3 separate regions of the Homo sapiens genome follow, and all the other regions are linked to region 2. Evidence: fine-mapped expression QTL. A gene starts in region 2. Each other region holds a variant in brackets. All regions are shown on one strand. Distances are between the middles of the regions.

Region 1 (6,797 bases), 130 kb before region 2:
ATCCTAGATGAGTGGATGAAAAGTCTTATTTCCATGCCATCAATTAAGGCCATTAATCCTTTCCAGCACTGACATATTGGTCTGGGCTTATTCAGGATTTTGACAAAAAGCTTACACAGCAGGTTTTCTGATTGAGTCATTCTAAGTAATTCTGAGGCCCTGGGAAAGTCAACCTGCTGTATCATTATAACTGCCAGAATGCTAAGTGTGCCACCTGGATGATCTAGACCATCTATGTGACATTGCCAGGAAGCTTTTATAGCACCATCTCACAGATGAGAAAACCAAGGCATAGGGAAGTTAAGCATTGCTATGATCTGAATGTTTGTGTACCCCCAAAATTCTTATACTGGAATCTAATATCCAGTGTGATGGTATTAAGCGGTGGGGCATTTTGGAAAGTGATAAGTTATGAGGCTCTGCCCTATGAATGGGATTCGTGCCCCTATAAAAGAGACTCAAGGAAGCTCCCTTGCCCCTTCTGCCATGTGAAGACACAGCAAGAAGGCACCATTTTGAAGCAGAGAGAGCAGCCTTCACCGGACACTGAATCTGCTAGTTCCTTGATCTTGGACTTTGCAGCCTCCAGAACTGTATGCAATACATTTCTGTTTACAGATTACTGAGTCTAAGGTATTTTGTTACAGCAGCTCAAATGGACTAAGAAAAGTGGCTTCTTCAAGAACATGTGCCTGATAAAGTTGATGAAATCAGGATTCAAACCTAGGCTGTCTGATACAGGCCCACAGGCTTAACCACTACACCACACTGCCTTTCTCCATGTATGCCACAAGGACTTAATATGAGTGGCTTACAAGGACTCATATTAAGTGACTTCCCAGTCAACTCTTTGTGCTCACATCACATCTCCTCAGCCCACCTCTGATTTCAGCCCTGGTTTTGGCATTGAGTTCTAGAAATCTCAGGTCATTTTCTTGCTTTCTGCCTCAGGACCTCCTGTGAAGGTGTGGGAGCCCAGGCAGGCCACTTTCAAGTCAGCTTGGAAATCCTCAAGCAATGAGGCGTGAGAACTGTGAAGAAGTGCCCCAGGCTCCAGCATAACAAAGGACAATCTGGAGACTTTCCATGCACTTCTTAGAACGCCAGGGTAACCATGCTCCCGTTGTCCACAGCATCAGCCTTGATAACATACCCTAATATTTTCCTTTCTGCCACATTCTCTCCATCCCCTCATTCCTGCTTCTTGGGTTCAACTCCTAAATAAACTACCTGCACGTGAGATCTACTGTCGGGCTTGCTTTTGGGGAACCAAACTTAGACATCCTGCCTTTGCAGCTTGATGAACCACACTGTTTCTTGGGGCTCCTTCCTAATCTGTTATTCAGATTTTTACATCCTACACAAATTTTCAGCAACCTGCCCTGAATGAAGTCCATCAGGGCATACATTCCAGAAGGAGCTACTGCCAGTACATGAGACAATTCTCTTGTGTTAAAATTTACCTAAAGGTTCCGGGCTGTGAGTTGCTGAATCTGCATTTCCACCTAGTTTTCCCAGAAGTGGCTGTTCATCCAGGAAGACTTGTTCTGCTCACTAGTCTATACGGAAGGCTTGGCATAGTTCTGTACTCAGTTATCCAGAAAGACAGTTCTGGTCCTCATATAATCGTGTGGATGTGTTTAGAGATTCTGTAAGGTGAAAAAGCAATCTGCCAGTGCATTAATTTGGAGAAACTATGTATTTCTATTTTAAAACTGGAAAATTGCTTTTTAAAATTTGTCATTTCTCCAAATATTTTATTTTTCACTATGCTAAGTGATCCAAATGCATTGTACATTCCCTATGCTGTAGGTACAATTATTGTGCCCTCTAACCACTATAGATGCACAATAAACTCAGAGTAATAAATTAACATTCAAGACAAATCATTAAATTCATGTTCACAATTCCCCCCATAAAGAAAGACTGTAAGCATCTCTTTAAAGGTATGTGACAGTAAGGTTATTTTGGCTTAAGACCAATTTTCAGTGCACAGATCAAGAATGTTACTTATTCTTTTATTTGTTTGTGTTTTAATTGTGGTGAAATATACATAGAATTAATCATGTTAGCCATTTTCACTGTTCAGTTCAATAGTGTTAAGTATATTTGCACTGTTGTACAATGAGTCTCCAGAACCTTTTCATCTTGCAAAACTAAAATTTTCTATCCATTAAACAACTCCTTGTTTCTCCCTTCCCCAGCCCTTGGCAGCCACCTTCTACCTTCTATTTTTATGACTTCACATACTCTAGATATCTCATAGAAGTGAAGTCATACAGTATTTGTCCTTCTGTGACTGGCTTGTTTCACTTAGCATAATGTCCTTGAAGTTCATCCATGTAGTAACTTCCTTTTTAAGGCTGAATAGTATTCTACTCATGCAAATACCACATTTTGTCTATTCATTCATCCATCCGTATACACTTTGTGTGGCTTCTACTTCTTGACTATTGTGAATAGCTCTGCTATGAACATGGGTGCACCAGCAAGTTGCTGTTAATGAAAATGATTCATTCTGTAGTGTTCCTTCCAGCTCACAGTCTTACATTCCTGTTATCAAGAAAAGCTAACTTAAAGTCCTTCTTACTCAGTTATCCACATTTGGAATTAGCTTAACCTGTTGGCCTAACAGTCATGACCCAGTGTAACCACTCATGTCTCAGCACAGATGACAAAACGCAACTTGGCTAGGAGGAAATAGGCTCAGTGGAGGGCTGGCCTTGGAGAACTCATCTTAACAAAGTGGAGACAAAGTTATTTTGGGAGGTCATGTAAGCAGAGTGATTATCATCATGGGGTCTGGGATCAAAATCCCAGCTCCAGCCTTCACTAGCTGTGTGACCTTGAGAAAGTTACTTAACCTCCCTAAACCTCAGTTCCTAATCTCTAAACAGAGGCAGTGATCATAATAGTATGGACATCTAGGAACATGGTGAGGAGTAAATAAAATAATCCATGTTAAGAATTTAGTGTCTGGCATACAGTAAGCGCCCAACAACTGTTAGCCCATATTCTGTAGTTACAGGTCACTGTTCCAAACCCCTCAATTTACAGAGGAGGCTCAGCAAGTTGAAGGAACATTTACTCCTGCCTTCACACGTAGCCATATGCATATGCAGACACAAAGCCACAGAGCTCCGTGTGTGCAAAGACCCCCTGTTTGATTTTAAAACCCTTGTGATCAGGGCTTTACTATCTAGCTATGAAAGTTTGGTTTATCTCAAAACTTTGATTTAAAAAACACGTCAATTAACCTAAGTTTGACCCTGAGAGCCCACAGGCTTAAAAACAAAAGCTAAAAAACAGGAACTGAAAAAGTTAAAAAAAAAAAAAATGTGAGCAAAACTAAGTAAACAGCATGCACACTTTTCTACT[T/C]TTCTGCTAAGAAAATCCTTAACTTTGTATTTCTTGAATCCTGTTTAAAATATATTTGGCTTTCTTTTGCATCAAATGTGGACCATCATAACCATCATCCAAAGACCACTGCACTTTAAATAATGATCCACGCTTTTACTTGGCCTTTCACAGGCTGGAACCAATTACCAAATTTCTCTCCCCACCCCCCCACCCCCACCCACCAGCACATTTCTGCCTTTGCAGCTCTGATTACTAGAGTTGAACACATTTGAGCAGTTCATTAGACAACAGTCCAAAGCTTCAGGGCAACTTGGGGGCCACATTCACATAGAATTCAGAGTTTGCAGCCTGCCAGCCAAGCACGCTCCCTCATGCATGCTGCTGCTGAGCAACTCCCAGTCCCATAGAACAGCCTCCCAGCTACAGTGTCCTCTCTAAATCTCTGGCTCATGGTACCTTTCAAGTACATGGTGAGCTTCCTCTAGCATTCTGGGACACTTTAAGGAATCTACCTGGCTCTTTTTCATTTTTAAATTTTTAAAAAATTATTATGTATTATTATTATTGTTATTTTTTAAGCCAGGGTCTCACTCTGTCATCCAGGCTGGGGTGCAGTGACAGGATCACAGCTCATTGCAGCCTCAAACTTCTGGGTTCAAGCAATCCTCCTGCCTTAGCCTCCCAAAGTATTGGGATTATAGGCATGAGCCACTGAGCCTAGCCTTCTTTTTTTTGATCAGATTTACATTCCTCAATATTCAAGGTTCACAATGCAAAGCAACATTAACGATTTATTTTCTTCTCAGGTTTTGTGTGTGTGTGTGCACACGCATGTGTGTGTAATTTTATTTTATTTTCTAGCTGGAAAGAGGCTGTTTCTCTTGGGGCTAGTCAATTCTTAGAGATGGCAAAGGGCTCAGCCTTTCATATGAAAATGAGCCAATCCAGCCTTTCATAAGAAAACTACCCAGTCTTGCCTGTGCACCCAAGGAGGCAATATTCCTCTGCCTTAATTAACCCAGGGCCAGGTATCAGGCAACTAGGGGCCACCCCTCTATCTTAGAGGCTGCCCCAAATAATTCAAACTAGCCAATCCTAAACTGTCTACCCTGCCCTGCCTTTCTCATGAAAACCCCATTTATTGGGGGCACTGGCCAAATCTTCCCCCAGTTCCTATCTTCTGCTTCCTACCACCCTGGTGTTTTTCCATGTGCCCCTGCATGGCACGACCATGCCTCCTGTCACGAGGACCTGTGAGCATAAACTTTGTTTTGCTGAGCTTCTCCTCTGTCTCCTTTTGTGGCCACAGCTAACTAAGCATCTCATAAAAAAGTGCAAAATATCAGGTCACCCTGCCTTGCTCCTGTTCCTGCCCAAGAACCACCCAGCACATGAGGGGTTAGCAACACAGGCTGGGCATTAAAATCACCTGATTTTTGCACTTTTCTATGCACATTTCTATAAAACTATGGATGTCTAGATATCACTCCAGGCCATCTGAAGCTGCACTTCTGAGGATGCCTCGCAGGGCTCAGCTGTTCCTAGGAACTACTCAGGTGATTGTGATGAATGGCGAGGGCTAAGAACCTCTGCCCAACCAAAACAGGATGTCAGTGTACAGCCCCAGGCCCCACACTCCAAGGGCAGGCCATGTGCAAGATGAATTGCTGCAGAATCCTTCAAGGCATACCAAAAATTCCCATAAGGAGTGACCCCAATTCACCGTTAAAGGGGAAAATGTCCTTCCTCAGCTCATCTAGAAATAAAATCTACAGGACTCATTTCTACTTGGGGTCACTGAAGGCCTGATCCTACACTCCAGCCAACATCACACCCTGAGTGCACATCTTATCTGGCTGAACACTGCTTCCAGCCTGTCCTCATGAGTACACCCACATAACTCCAGTTCACTGCAGATTAAGTCAGAGAGAACCTTGCTATGGTTGGAGCTCTGCAGGAGAGCTCAGGGACTACCAGCAGAGTTCTCTCTAAGCAGCAGGACCAGTCCATGTCAGATGACCATGACCCAGGGAGCAGGCAGACCCCTGAGCATCATCAGCAAAAGATGAGGGAGGCAGACAATGTAGAAGGTATTCAATGGCTGGACTAAAAGCAGCACATACAGGAGGATCATCCCAGTGTAATCAGGGCTGCAAAGAATTAGGGCAGAGATTGAATGTTGAAGCCGGTGCAGGGGGGAAAGACACTGACCAGAGCACTGGGCTCTGGGGGTAAAATGCCTGGATTAAACCCTGGCTCTGACCCATAATTTGTGGCAAGCAAGAAAACAAAAACTCTGTAAGCCTCAGTTTTCTTATCTATCAACTGGGAATAATTGCTTTACTCATAGGGTTATTATGAGGAACAGATGAGATAGTGAGGTTGAGTGCCAGCACAGTAGCCAGTACTCAATCAAATATAACTGTAAAACAAAGGGGCAGTTCCTAAGGCCCAAAATGGAGTTTTAGTCAAAAGGAAATAAGGCAAAAGGCCAGTTACAAGATGGAGCAGGCCCTGCAGTGGAGTTGAAAACCCAGGTCACCATGATGACTGTGGACTATAACTTTGGGTTCCAGTTTCTTTGCAAAAACAAGATTGTCCCCCAAGTCCTAGACAAATTGGGCAGCCGTGGCCTTAGCTACAAAGGTTAGAAAGAGCCAAGCAACCATTACCCTGACTGTCTTGGCACAGGTTCAAAGCTGATGATCACTCACCGGGACTTTGAAAGGCCACTTTCCTTTCAATCCACAGGTCCTTCCCAGTATGGTCCTTCAAGAATTATTTCTTTTTTTGTTTTTTCAACTAACCCCTGGTATTTTCCATGTCCAGTGCCACGCTTCTATCCTCATTCTGGGCAGGGGCCTCCCTCCTGTCTAGCTCTCCAGCCATTTAAGTTTCTCCATCCGGCACTGCCCCGGTTTTGCTCTGTTTCCCCATCAGCCTTCATTCTAGACCCTTCACACAGGCAGCTCCCCAGCCCACAGAGTCCAAAAGCAGGCTTTCTTCTCTACCCTTTCTCCCCACTCTCACCCAGTCCCATCCTCTGCCCTACCCACCCATCCCCGACAAGCTAGGATTTCATTATCCTCCAACTGAACCATATAAAGCCTCCATTTAGGAATTCTCATACATATTTTCATGTTAGCAACACCCACCATCTTCCCTGGAAAGTTCCCATTAGCTTTCCCTTAAGCACTCAAAATACAGTGAGACTTCACATTAACATTTTAACACAGAAACCTCTGTCCTGGCTTTTCGGTTCACTGTCATTCAGGGGGAGGGAAGCATTTTACCATACTCTGAGAATCAATTCCTGAGGTGGAAAAATGGGGACATTTTTCTAAACATGTTTGTTTCTGATCTTCCTTGCTGTCCTCCCCCAGCCTCCCATGAAGCTGATATCCCCATCGGATTGGACCTGCACTCTTGGTGAAATG
Region 2 (6,797 bases):
GCCTCAAATACTTCCTATTAACATATGGTAAAGGAAGAACACCCTTTCAATTAAGCATGTCCTCTGATCATTTTTCTCTTAAAAAATCAGTGTGTCCATATGCAAATGCATAATGACAACCTGAATATTCACATAAGTGATTAAAATAAAAATGACTAGAAGCATCAAAAACTATTGGAAAGACTGGCACTTAGGTTTCCCCGTGGTGGTATGCGGTGGCTGGGAAGAAGTTAGAGAATTGTTAACTAGTTGATAAGTGTTGCACTGGGTACTGCCTCACTTTGATCCCCAGTTTCAATCACTTTTCTCTCAAAGCATTTCACTTCATTTTCACTGGAACAACTTTCTTTTCGCACACACATACTCATGTTTTTAAATTTAATAATCAATTGTGTAATATTTAATTAAATTTCACAAGGAACATTGTAATAGGTGGAATCAAGTTTGGGAACAAGCACAATGGATTCTCATGGGACCCATAACTCACCTAGTGGGAACAGAAGTATGCAGGTGCACACCAGCCGCTGGCCTGAGCATTTATTGTGCTGTATCATCCCTCTGCATGTTGTACACCACACAGTAATGGCTGGTATCTGTTACTGGATGAGTCAGCTAAATGGAGGCTGGTTAAGAGACCTTCTACTATAATGTCATTTACAGTGCCCTTGTAGGGAACCAATTATCCCACTGATGACAGGATTTTCTGACTTAGAACATCTGAAAACACCTGGGAAGTATGTTGTCTGGAAAGAACATGCAGAAACCAAATTCTAGCCCCAGCACTCCTGCAAGTATTCCATAATAAATATTTGTAAGCTTGAAAGAACACCAGCTTTTACCCTATTCTCAAGGTTATATTATTCTTTTATGTTTATCTGAGGTATAGATCTCACAAACAGCCATGAATATGTGAATACATTCACATACTGATGGATCTGGAATTCTACCAGTCAGCCTGATAAATACCCACTAATAAAAATATCTGTAGATTGGAATATTTTGTTTATTCATTTTTGTAGAAATGAAAAACAACAAACAATATCCTCAGAGAAGAAAAATTCCTGCATATGCACAGTAGGTGCTTACTAAATATATGATGAATGATGTACAGGCTGAAATATTTCTCCCAATGTATATTATGTCTGCTCATTCTAATATTTGTGATATTTATGTACAGTGAGGAAATGCCCAGTGTCAAAGTGGATCCTCAACGTGAATATGCTGCAGGAACTGAAGTGTGATGTAGGCAGTTTCCAGAAGCACTATGTGGAGGCAGTGATCTGTAATGCACTGGTATTAAGGTTATTGAAATGGTCATGAAATTGCCATGAAATTGCATGCGTGAAATCATTGCAAGGTTTACGTCCCAGTGAGGATGGAAATGAAGAGCTTGGAAACAGGAATTGGAGCTTTCAGTCTAGAAACAACCTTGGAAGAAATACAAGTCTCCTGAATGTTATTAAATAAATCATATTAAGAGAATTCAGAGCCTACAGTACTTGATATTTGACATCCACCTCTCTGCAGTAACATAGCAGGACTGAAGAGCACCAAAACCAGCTAGAGTCTTAATCACGCATTAGACTCAGAAACTTCTATTAACATATGGCAGAGGGAGAACACCCTTTTCAGTTAAGCATGTCCTTTGATTCTCTCTTTAAGAAATCAGTGTGTCCATATGCAGATGCATAATGACAACCTGAATATTTACGTAAACAAAGAAAAAAATGACTCAAAGCAACAAAAACTGTGGGAAAATACCAACACTTAGGTTTCTCCATGGTAATACGTGGTGGATGGAGGAAGTGAGAGAATTGTAGCTAGTTCATAGTGCTGCGCTGGGTAGCCCTCTCCCTTTGATCCCCAGTTTCAACCACTGTACAAACAGTCAAAAATCAGTTTTGCTGGAATCTCCTTTTTACTCTGCTACTCTGGCTAAAGTCTTCCACTTACTTTTCTCACTTACAGGTACCTGAATATGTGCGTGCAAATGTAAAAGTCTTTAGATCAAAATAGGAACAAGGAAAGTTTATCCGTTTCAGTTTAGGATTTGGTGGGTGTGGCAACCCAGGAAGACCTGAGAAATAACCACTGTTTGGTTTGAATGATACATTTGACTGCCATTAAAATAGCATATAATTATAGCCTAAATGTAGACTTAATTTTTAACAGATTTATCTGAACTTTCAAAATTTGTACCGTTGGGTGTAACGATCTAAAACTATCTTATGGGAGATGTTACAGCAGTTTTCAAATCATTGAGCTAATATGAAATCTGGACTTTTTAAAACCCCTCTGATCTAACCTGGTTACGCAGTTAACATTGTATCTGGGAAAGGGGCTTTCATTTTACCTAGTCTCCAGAAGTCAATGGAATTATTCTGTAAATAGTTCAGGCTTTTGTCTAAATATGTGAAGACTGACAAGACTATCTCCGTGAGAATCCGCACCCCCCCACCCCAACCTCCCCCCTCCTTAATCATGTTTCACAAAGTAAATCTATAGACGTTCCTCCTGGGTTTTGGGAGATTCCCCATCCTAAACAAACCAGCTGGAGGAAAGGAAAGGAAGGAAGAAATAAACGCAACACAGAAGTTCTCCTCAGTTGACAAAAGGTCAAAAATCATTAACGTGTAAATGTTGCTTTTTCCATCCCAAAGCACCTTCTCACGTAGAGTCCAGGGACTAGGAGGACTCACAACGCAGCGATGGGCAGCCAGGCCCTGCAGGAGTGGGGACAGAGGGAACCCGGCCGGTGGCCCGACCCTGCAGGGAAGAAGGACGTGCGGCGAGAAGCATCGGATTCGGGGAGGGCCGGGACCTGGCCGAGGGTGACATTACCGAGCACTTCCTGGCACAGCGCTGGTCCCCTCCCCAAACGCGCTATATGTGGTTCTGTACGGGACTGCCTTTCCCAAAGACAGCCAAGGAAAAACTAAAGATCGACGGGGACACCCGCCTCCCTTCCTCGCCCCAACGGTTTCTCAGAGGCTGTGGGGACTTGGTGAGGGTAGGGGGTAGTTGTCCCAAATCAGCAGCTTCAGGATGTAAGGTATTACAGAAAACTTTGAAGTTTTGTTATCTGTAGCACAGGGACAGGGGTGGGACAATAGAGAAGGAATGTTTTCTTTTCAAAAGAAAACACAAACAAAACTTTATTTTTCTGGTCCGCGGCAGCCTGTCTGCTGAACGTTGACTTGCTTTCGCTTTGCAGCAGGCGACGGTCCCGGGCGCCACCTGCGCGTCGGTGGGAGGCTGGTCCACGCCCGGGTCCCCCGACGCCCACTGCAAAGGGCAGTGGGAATGACAGACTGTAAACCCTCTCGCCTGCGTCCCCTTCAAGCACCAGAAACCCAAGTTGGAACTAATTCTTTCTTTCGGAAGGTGCAACTCCCCTCCCGCGAGCTCCGCGGTGCCGGGCCGAGATTGCCGAGAGGAAGCGGCGCAGCGCTGCCGCCAAGGCTCCTCCTGTCGCCGGTGCGGCCGGGACTACCTGGCGGCGCGGCGCGTGCAGCGCGCAGAGTCCCGGGAGCCCACGCCTCCGCCTCCGCCCCCGCCCCCTCCGCCTCCCAGTCCACCTCGCCCGCCCGCCCTCTCGCCCGGCGGAGAGCACAGCCCACTCCCTCCCACCTGCGGCCGCCGGGCCGCCCTCCACCCACACCTCTGCCGCAGGCCGGACCCAGTGCGCCCGCCCGTCGGTCAGTCCAGGCCAGGCGCCCGGCGGGCCGCGCTCACGCAGTTGGCGCAGGAGGCCTTACGCTGGCGGCGCAGTGCCCGCCCCCTGCGCTCTCCCCGCCCCCTCCCTCCCTCGCAGGGGCCGAGCGAATGTAGCCCGCGAGAGAAAATGGCGGCGGCGGCGGGGAATCGCGCCTCGTCGTCGGGATTCCCGGGCGCCAGGGCTACGAGCCCTGAGGCAGGCGGCGGCGGAGGAGCCCTCAAGGCGAGCAGCGCGCCCGCGGCTGCCGCGGGACTGCTGCGGGAGGCGGGCAGCGGGGGCCGCGAGCGGGCGGACTGGCGGCGGCGGCAGCTGCGCAAAGTGCGGAGTGTGGAGCTGGACCAGCTGCCTGAGCAGCCGCTCTTCCTTGCCGCCTCACCGCCGGCCTCCTCGACTTCCCCGTCGCCGGAGCCCGCGGACGCAGCGGGGAGTGGGACCGGCTTCCAGCCTGTGGCGGTGCCGCCGCCCCACGGAGCCGCGAGCCGCGGCGGCGCCCACCTTACCGAGTCGGTGGCGGCGCCGGACAGCGGCGCCTCGAGTCCCGCAGCGGCCGAGCCCGGGGAGAAGCGGGCGCCCGCCGCCGAGCCGTCTCCTGCAGCGGCCCCCGCCGGGTGAGCAGCACGGCCGGGGTCGCGGCGGGGACTTGGAGAGCGGGCAGAGGGCAATGAATGAACCCCGGGCACCATGCACGGCGTCCCGGGGTTCAGCGCAGCGAGGCTACGCGCCGCTCGCCGGGACCTACGCCCCTGAGCACCCCCCGACCCCTTCGGAGTCGGGCGGCGCCCCGGACCCAGCCTGGGGGACCGGACGGGGACGTGCGGAAGAGTTTGTTATTGTTTGCAGACATGTGACAGGCGTGCGAGCCTCTCTGCGGGGAACCGTTGCGAAAAGGTGTAGGGGGCCACGGCTGGCTTTGTGGGACTCCTGGAATCGGGGCTCTCCGAGGAGCCCGGGGGCGGGGCACGGCCCTGCGGCGGCGCCCCCGGACGGGTGTCCCCGGGGCAAAGGCACTGGGGGGCGAGGCCCGAGCCTGAGGCGGGCGGTGGTCGGAAGAGGGGCGGGGTGGGTGAGAAGCCCGAGGTCGGGTGGGAGACTGAGAGGACCGAAGAGAAAGTAGCAGGTCCCAGCGGCCGTGACAGGCAGAGCCCCTCGGCCCGCCCGGGACTCGAGTCCCTAGGCAGATACCGCGGGCTGGGCCCGGACGCAGGCGGCGCGCCCCCAGCGCCGGCCGCAGGGCTCCAGGAGGACGGCTCGGTAACGCCTGTCAAAGCCGTGCGGCGGGAGGCTGCACACTCGCGGAGGCTTGCAGTCTTTTAGGAAGTGCGGTTTGTCTAATTGCAGCCCCCAAGGGGCTTTGAGTGTTCCTGGGAATGCGAACTGCACTGCTAAGTCACTTGAGTGACTTCTGTTTGGAGTTTGAATTTGGCCTTTGAAGTTTGCATTTGGCGGAGTGGTGTAAGAGCCAGGACCGGATGTGTCAGCCATTCAGTTTCAAAGCAGTGGTGACTGCTCCCCGCAGCCCCTCCGGCTTGGCCCGGGGACTGCGGCGCGGGTGCAGTGCTTCCTGCTCGGTGCCCTGGCGCGGGCCGCCCGCTGAATTCCAGGGGCCGCAGTGCGGTGGGCTTCGGCTCAGATGCGTCTTCTGGTGCATATGAAGTACAGTATGTGTAAGGTAATTTAGACCAGCGGTTTATTGGCCTCGCCCATTTTTGGCTACTGGAAATTTTTATGTTAAAGGAAATTCTTTTAAGTGTGACAGCTACATCCTTGTTTGTTTGTTTTTTAAAAACCTGATTAACGTATGCAAAGTACAAAGTCTTGATGGGTATTTTGAGTTGCTGGAAATGTTTTTGTGATAGTCCCTCGTGGCCCTGTAGAATTCCCTGACCTTTATTATGAGAAGAAAGCGTGTCATTTTGTGAGACGAATTTGACAGTAGGAGTCCTTGGTTTGGATTCATTATCTAAAGTGATCTGGCATTTTTTGTGCATTTGATTATTTGCTTAAAATCACGATCCATTTAGTATTTGGAAGTCCCCTTCCTCTCCCCAAGAACTAAAAAATATGCTTCGCACTGTACCATGGCACTACTGAGACCAAAGGAGATTTGTGACTGATACAGTTTTGTGTGCACTTGTACATGTAATTTATTCTTACAAGAGTTATGTACCTCTATAGTTTTCCCATTTCTGTGCAGATTGTATTAAAACTTAACTGGAATAATTCTTTGAAGGCAACTTCTACTTTAAATGAATTCCAGATAAAAATTTTTAACCCCAAATTTAAGAAATTGTATCTATTGAGACCTAACTTTTTGGATACAATAAATAATTTAGCAAACGTCAGCATTCTAGTACTCTTAATGAGCTGTGAATATAGTAGAAGAGCATCCACTGTAAAAATAATGTACTGAAATTGTTTAATGTTGTCTCTTGACACAAAATAAGAGGACTAAGGTGGAGGCAGATAGAATTTAGGGACTAAGTAATCCATGCTTAGTATTTGCGTTTTGTAACCGAGGTTTTTTCCCCTTTGCTTAAGGTGTAGATTATAATTGCACAGTATAAGAAAATAATGGGCTTGTAAGGATAATCTTTTTTAAAGAAATTATTTTTACGAGTCAGAATGCTGTTGGTTTATCCCAAATGTCATACGTAAAGATTTCATTTATAGTAAAATGTTGATTCCCTAACCTTATGAAATATAGTGAATTTTTTTTTCTTAACAATTGGGTTGAAATTCATTTGAATCTGTTCGTATAAAACTTTGTGGGGAAAGGGCTTGTATCTTATTTGAGTGTGTATATTTTGTATTGCATGTTGGTTATGCTACACTATTACTTACCATTTAAAGTTTTAGGAAAAAAAACCCTTAATTATAGCCAACTCAATAAAATATCAATTGAACTTTATGTTTTACTTTTTTTTGACAGTTAAGTTACATTCATACTTCCAAGAGGAAAATCTAAGATTTTGAAATATTTGAGAGTTCTGTGATCTTTTTTTTAATTTTAGAATTTCCTTCTGATCTTTGAATGTAGAAAATATACTTTGAATTAGAATTTATATAAATAAATAATACT
Region 3 (6,797 bases), 140 kb before region 2:
GGGAGCCCTTTCCTGTGGTCCATACAGGGCAGCCTCCAAGGGAAGAAAGTGGACCTTTCCCTTGGAGGGACAAACCAAAGACTGGCCACAACAACGTACTGTCGTGATTGATTCGCAGGCATGCCAAGTGTCTGCTGCCTAAGAGATTCCCTTTAATTTTACAAAACACTAGAGCTCAAGGCTGCACCCTCTGTACTTCAGAATATCCAGAGCCACCCACCCACGCAGTCCTCTCCCTTCTCCTGAGGCGGTCCTTGCTACATCCTTCCTGGTTTCTACATCTTTCCTACTCTCTCATTAGCCCACTTCCTGGACATGCTGGACAACACCCTTCTTCCGTCCTATTTCTCAACTCAGCATAAATTCAAGGGTTATTGTATGTATCAGATTTCTAACTGAAGGATAGTGGGTAAAGGGGGATAAAAGGCAACACAGAGTGAGGAACAACTTCAAAACCCTTATTAGATACCTCTTTCATAAATATTCACAAACCATTCTCCACTATGAAGACTTTCTCAGCTATGTACCACCATCTTCTAGAAACCCAGGCTCCTTCCACAGACTTCTTTTTTCCCTCTATTGACAGCCTTCTAAAACCCTAAATTCTGTTCTACTCTTTTTTTGTCTAAACTTTATTATTTTAATATTTATATTTTAGCATAAAATTTTATATTTCAATATAAAATATTACATTAATATTAATATTAAAATAGTTTACTATTTTAATGCAATTGTCTTTAAAATCAAATTGGCAAGTTTTTTTAATGTTCTTTTTTAAAAACTTTTTCATTTCAATAGTTTTTTGGGGGAAAAGGGGTGTTTGGTTACACAAATAAGTTCTTTAGTGGTGATTTCTGAGATTTTGGTGCACCCATCACCCAAGCAGTGTACACTGTACCCTATGTGTAGTCTGTTATACCTCGCCACCCCCCCATCCCTTGGTGACAATGGCTTTATAGTACAGTTTGAAGTTCAGTAATGTGATGCCTCCAGATTTGTAATAAAATTAATATTAATAAATAGTAATATTAAAATTAATTATGCTAATTAATATTATTGTGATATTTTATATTTTAATATAAAATATTCAATTATATTAATATTAAAATATTCTAATATTTTAATGCTATGCTTTTAAAAATCAAATTACAAGTTGTATAAAATTTTAATAGAACCAGGGCCAAGATTAGGGGGAGGAAAGTGAGGAAAGGGTATATACACATGCAGGATCAGATCCTCTCTTTATTTTAAATTTTCATCCTTTGTTCATCAGGGATTTTGTTTTCATTAATTTTGATTTTTAAAAGACTACTTTATAGTGCAGTTTATCTTAACCACGAAGTTTTTTGACATCCCCCTCGACCCCTTTTTTTTTTTTTGTATCCCAGGCAAGTGCCTCACTCAATATCACCTTAGTTATGGCCCTGCCAGTTGAGGGGGCTCAGGGAAAAAGACTTATCTTTCTACATTAAACATGTCAGTTTAGAAGCTCTTCCAAACCAAAAGGTAAGTTCTTTTCCCAAGCAGAATTTTGTCTTCAAACTCCTGCCAATTTTGAGAAGAATTTTTTTCTTGTGACCCCTCCCTCATTAGGCTATGAGATCCTTCAGAATAGAAAATGATGCTGTATCCGCTTCCATAGCCCCAGCACCCAGACTTGGTAGATGAATTATAAATATTTACTGCATACAAGGATCCAGTGCAGAGCTTTGTAAATTCCATTTGTTATTTGTTGAATATATTCACAGGTTTTCTTTTTATGTTAAAATCAAACATCTTAGAAAACCAGCTGGCAAGTACCTGAAGACATCATTTAATCTAATCTTTTCATTTTGTACATTGGGAAGCTGAGGCCAACCTCCATGGTTATACTTGCAGGCAAGTTGCTTAGAGTTTATCCAAAAAAATGATATTTCTGATTGTCAGGGTACTAAATAATTTTGGTAGCATCCCAGTAAGCAGAACAGAGTAAAATTCTCCCAGGGGTTCATGAAGCCCCTGCAATAACACAATGCTACTAATTAATTAATTAATACAATGCTGTTATTTCTGCCAACAGAAATCTCAGAATATGAAAAACACACAAGAGAGGCTAAATGGGAAAATTACTGACACCCAAGCCAATGACCTGAGTCAGAACAACTTTTATCAGAATGAAGCGCAGAAATATTAATATCAAGAAGCTGAACTTTTAAATCAAAGCCAGAAAATGTATTTGCCCAAGGTAAAGGCATGAGCAGAAGGTTTACAGAGAGAAGGACAATGATGATAAGGAAAGCTTGCTTCTTTACAATGAATGCATTGTGACAAACTCGTGAGGCACCAAGCAAGCTGACAAGGGTCCCTTCTTCCTTGCACCTAGGACAGTTTGGCTAAAGGACATCTAGGGTGACACGCCTCAGACAGTCCGCATTAATTTCACATCCTGGAATAGCCCGAAGAACCTGTCCAACCTGACTGTCAGCCTTTTCAAAATCACTTTTGGAATTCTTTGTTCAATCCTGCTTGGTTTACACTGGAACGTCTCTTCTGGGACTTCTCTGGTGACTTGATCTTTGTCCACAATGACATAGCCCAGGAGACCCACCAATACCCAGATTTGCCCAGTGGGTGACACTAATATTAGATCCAATTAGAAGTGTCAATTCAAAACAGATGAAGGACACATTTACACACAAGTCAGGGCTGCCACAAATTCATTTCTTCCTCACAATATCCTCTAGCAGAAAAAAGGGCAAACTGACCTTGAAGAAACCTCCTTTTTTTTATCGGTTACCATGGCAGCATGAACCGTCTCTCCCCAGGGCACCTGCCCATGGGTTTGCACCTGCCAGCTGGTAGCAAGAGTGCACCAGCAGCCTTGGTTCCCAGTGGCTGTGCTCACATCATCAACAAAGGTACCAGCAGTGCCAATTGGCTTCACGATATGGATACCTGCCCGCTAAGCATTGGCCTGGAGCTCGGGGACTTTCACAAAGGCCAGCCAACAGCTGGCAGGCAGGAACCTCCAGGTCATTGTCATCCTGGGCTGAATTGGAACATGCACTTGGGAGACAAAGGCTCTGTCTGTAACCACAGCATCCCTTCCTCCCTGGGTGTTTTATTTTCAGCTCTGGGTCCCCTGCTATGGGAAGGCCATGTGGCTGAAGGTGTCTTTCTTGTTTTTTTTTCCCCCCCCTCCTTTAGCATTGTCCTGCCTTGTGCATGGTGCAGAAAAGCTTTCTCTGTCCCATGTCTAGTTTTATTGCAAATCAGAGAGCTCACCATAAGTCATCCTGGGCCAGTGGGTTCAGAGGTGGAGCTGGTAACCAGAGGCCA[T/C]GTCAAACTTCCTCCTCTGGCTCCATACCAAGGCCTCGGAGGATTTTTTGTCACATGAGGTTACTGTAGTTTCACATCCTCTAAAGCAAAGCTCTGTCGAAACTCTCTATTCTCACATGGCTTCAGCTCAAACAACCACCCTACTCAGCTGCCTTCCTAACCCTTTCAAGCCGTGAATCAGGAGACCTGGGTTCCAGTTTCAGCTCAGTCTGCGTGCCCCAGAGCAATGACGGGGCCTCAACTTCTTTATCATGAAAATTAAGAGGCCAAAGTACCTTTCACTCAGGTTCCTTTCAACTCTCTCTCCCCTATCTTAAAAAAAAAAAAAAAACAACAGCTTATTTTTCCTGTTGCTTTTAGAAGAAACTCTTAACCTGAGACTCTCTAAAAATGAATAGAGATTATTGTGGTTTAAAAAATAAATGGCTACACACAGCAACCTGACTGTATCTCAAAAATATTATGGTAAATGAAAGAAGCTTCACATACAAAAGAGCTCATACTGTATGGTATTATTAACATGGAATTCAAAAATAGGCAAAACTAATCTACAGTTTTAAAAATTAGAATAGTGGTTGCCTCTGGCTGTGAGGTAGGAGCAGGGATTACCTGGGAAGGGGCAAGAAAGAATTTTCTGAGATGAAGGTTATATTTTATATCCGGTTAGGACTGGGTCACACAAGTAAGCCTTCATCAAAACTCACAGACTGCTACTCTTGAGAGGATCAATAGAGGTAATAAAGCAATTATAGCAAAATATTAATTGCAGGATCCAAGTTGTGAGTAAATGGGTATACCCTGTTTAATTCCTTCAACTTTCCTGTAATTTGGGAATCTTCATACTAAAATGTTAGAAAAAAACACGTTCTAATACATTTCAAAATTCCTGTCTCACTCATTCTCTCCTTTCTTCCATCCCCTCCCTCTTTCTTGACATGTGACCTTCTTTTCCCATTAAATGAGTCAATGGAAATGGGAATATTTATTGATTTGAGCAGTTAAGTCACCAGTGCTCTGTGATGACTAACTACTTTATCATTCATTGCCCATGGCTTTCAAGGGAAGAGGACAAGCTCTGTGCATCTTTCTCAAAGAAAGCGTTCCTACCTGTAAAAGTCTGTTAGAAAGGACTGCAGATTTAATAAGCATCTTTCAAGAGCTCTGTCCCCATTCCAACTCACCCCAACCCTCCAGCCCCAACACATTTGTTAAAAATTCACATTCAGAGATGCAGGACCCTCAACCTTGGACTTCCCAGACTCCAGAACTGTAGGACATAAACCTCTTGTCTTTACTTTAAAAAATAATAATAACATTCAGTCCCTTTTTTGAAGGTTTTTATCAGGATATCTCAAACTTAACACTGAAAGGAGGTAGCAAAATTTCTGTTTCCTCCATGTCTTTGTACTTGTAGAAATGGAGGCACAAAGGTAAGACACAGGTGTGACCAGGCCCTTCGAGTGGTTCAGCTGACTGAATATACACCTAGAGACCCTAAAACAAGCCACAGGGGTGAGAAATCAGAGAATTAGGAATGCGCAATTTAAAAGCACTGCGGTTTCCAATGTGAATTGACTGGAACTGAGGTTAAAGAAGAATTTCAGCATTTTTTGGTCACCAGTTTCTCAATGGACCATTTCCTGTCCTCTCACTGTCAAGTTTAGAGAATAAAACAAACCTCAAGGATGTATCTCTGCTCCACACCCTGTCTCAAGGCAAAGTTAGTGGTCACCAACAGCAAGATAGCACACACTGCATCTACAAATGTATGTGACATATCTTCACATTTTGTGTGTGTGTGTGTGTGTGTGTGACCACAACTTCAAAGAAACGAACAAAAGAAGCAACCAATAATCATAATGAAGAGGTTAAATTTTACCAGAGCCAATTGGGCAGAGAAAAAAAATCCAAAAACACAATGAAAACAAAGAATATTAGACCTGTTAAAAAATAATAATAAAAACCTTAGAGTTCATTTTAGTCAAACTTTTCATTTTGCAGAAAAAGAAACTGGATCTCAAATTTCCAATTTAATGAAAGTTATGTCTGAGAATATAAATCTGAGACCTGATCTCACCACCAGAAAATAGGGTTGGAATTGACCTTATAAATAATATATCTAAGCCCCTCAGTTCACTGGTGAGGAAACTGAGGTTCAAAGAAATTTCAGGGACTACTTCGAGTCCACACTGTTACTTAGTAGGACTAACTCCCATGTGTTTATGCTTCTGAGGAAGACAGCTTCGGTACCTTCCTTCCCTGTCCAAATCCTATCGGCAGCCTTTATCACTCTTTCGTTCTTTGAAATGAGCAGTTGATGTTTTTCTCATGTTCTTATACAAATAACCACCTTAATTCAGCTTAGAGACCCACATCTCCTTTCCAACCAGATTAGTATCCCTTACAGAAATTCAGGCACTGAGTCTCCCTCTGTCGCTCAGGCTGGAGTGCACAACCTCAGCTTACTGCAACCTCTGCCTCCTGGGTTCCAGTGATTCTCCTGCCTCAGCCTCCTGAGTAGCTGGGATTACAGGCATGCACCACTACGCCCAGCTAATTTTTGTATTTTTAGTAAAGACAGGGTTTCACCATGTTGGCCAGGCTGGTCTAGAACTCCTTACCTCAAGTGATCTGCCTGCCTCAGCCTCCCAAAGAGCTGGGATTACAGGCATGAGCCACTGCATCTGGCTACATCCAGGCAATTTTAAATACCTGTCTGTGTTTTATAACCACTCCAAGCTGGTCAGCCTCAAGGAAATCAACTAGGAGAGTTCAGAGTTTTTCCATGTTAAATTCTGACTCTATTTACCAAAGCAAACAAATTAAGGTACTGAAAGACTTTAGTAAACACAAATATTTTTACTTGTGGTTACAGAGGCTTTGCAAGAGCTCTTGTTCTTAGCAGTGATTATGTTGAGCCATTCATTTCATTCACGTAATAGTCTGACAAAATGTGAATGCCTACCATGTGTCCAGTACTTTCTAGGTGATGGAGACGCAGCAGGGAACAAAGTTTCTGCACTCTTGGATCTCATATCTACTGCAAGAAACAGACAAGCAATAAACAAGTATAGCCATAATATGTCAGATATTGATATGTGCCATGGGGAAAAAGAAAGTGAGAAAGTAGGTGAGTGGGTACCAGACTGCAGCAGTAAGGAAGGGTGGTTGCTAATGTCATATATAAGATGGACTCACTGATAAACAGACTTGAAAGAAATGAGGAAGCAAGCGTTGTGTACATCTGGAGGAAGCCGTTTCCAAGCAGAGGGGGAACAAAAGTAAAGGCCTGAAGTAGGAGTGGCATATTCTTGGAACAGCGAGAAGGCCAGGGTGACCAGAGCAGAGTGAGCGAGGAGACAGTGGAAGGAGATGTTGTCTTGAGGCCCAGTTGTGTGGGGCTTTGTAGGACATTGCCGGGGCTTCAGCTTTTTCTCAAAGTGAGGTGGAAAGGCATTAAAAACTGTGGAACCCAGGAG

The links. PIP is the estimated chance that this variant, and not a neighbour inherited with it, causes the effect.
Region 1: its variant is fine-mapped to the expression of MAP3K1 in whole blood (TOPMed, PIP above 0.99).
Region 3: its variant is fine-mapped to the expression of MAP3K1 in whole blood (TOPMed, PIP above 0.99). The same link has a PIP of 0.9 or more in monocytes.

The regions. Positions count from the first base shown.
Region 1 is chr5:56,683,344-56,690,140 of GRCh38, forward strand. No RefSeq gene overlaps it. Among named protein-coding and RNA genes, the nearest start is that of C5orf67, 80 kb to the left of the region's middle. RefSeq lists an enhancer at 3,265-3,414. The variant T/C (reference allele first, on the strand shown) is at 3,379.
Region 2 is chr5:56,811,730-56,818,526 of GRCh38, forward strand. MAP3K1 (mitogen-activated protein kinase kinase kinase 1) reads left to right here and starts at 3,820. Exons shown (of 20, transcript NM_005921.2): 1 at 3,820-4,326. The coding sequence starts at 3,845. RefSeq lists enhancers at 3,048-3,177, 4,629-5,452 and silencers at 3,538-4,307, 4,378-4,497, 4,678-4,917.
Region 3 is chr5:56,666,819-56,673,615 of GRCh38, forward strand. No RefSeq gene overlaps it. Among named protein-coding and RNA genes, the nearest start is that of C5orf67, 64 kb to the left of the region's middle. RefSeq lists a silencer at 3,384-3,678 and an enhancer at 3,628-3,677. The variant T/C (reference allele first, on the strand shown) is at 3,319.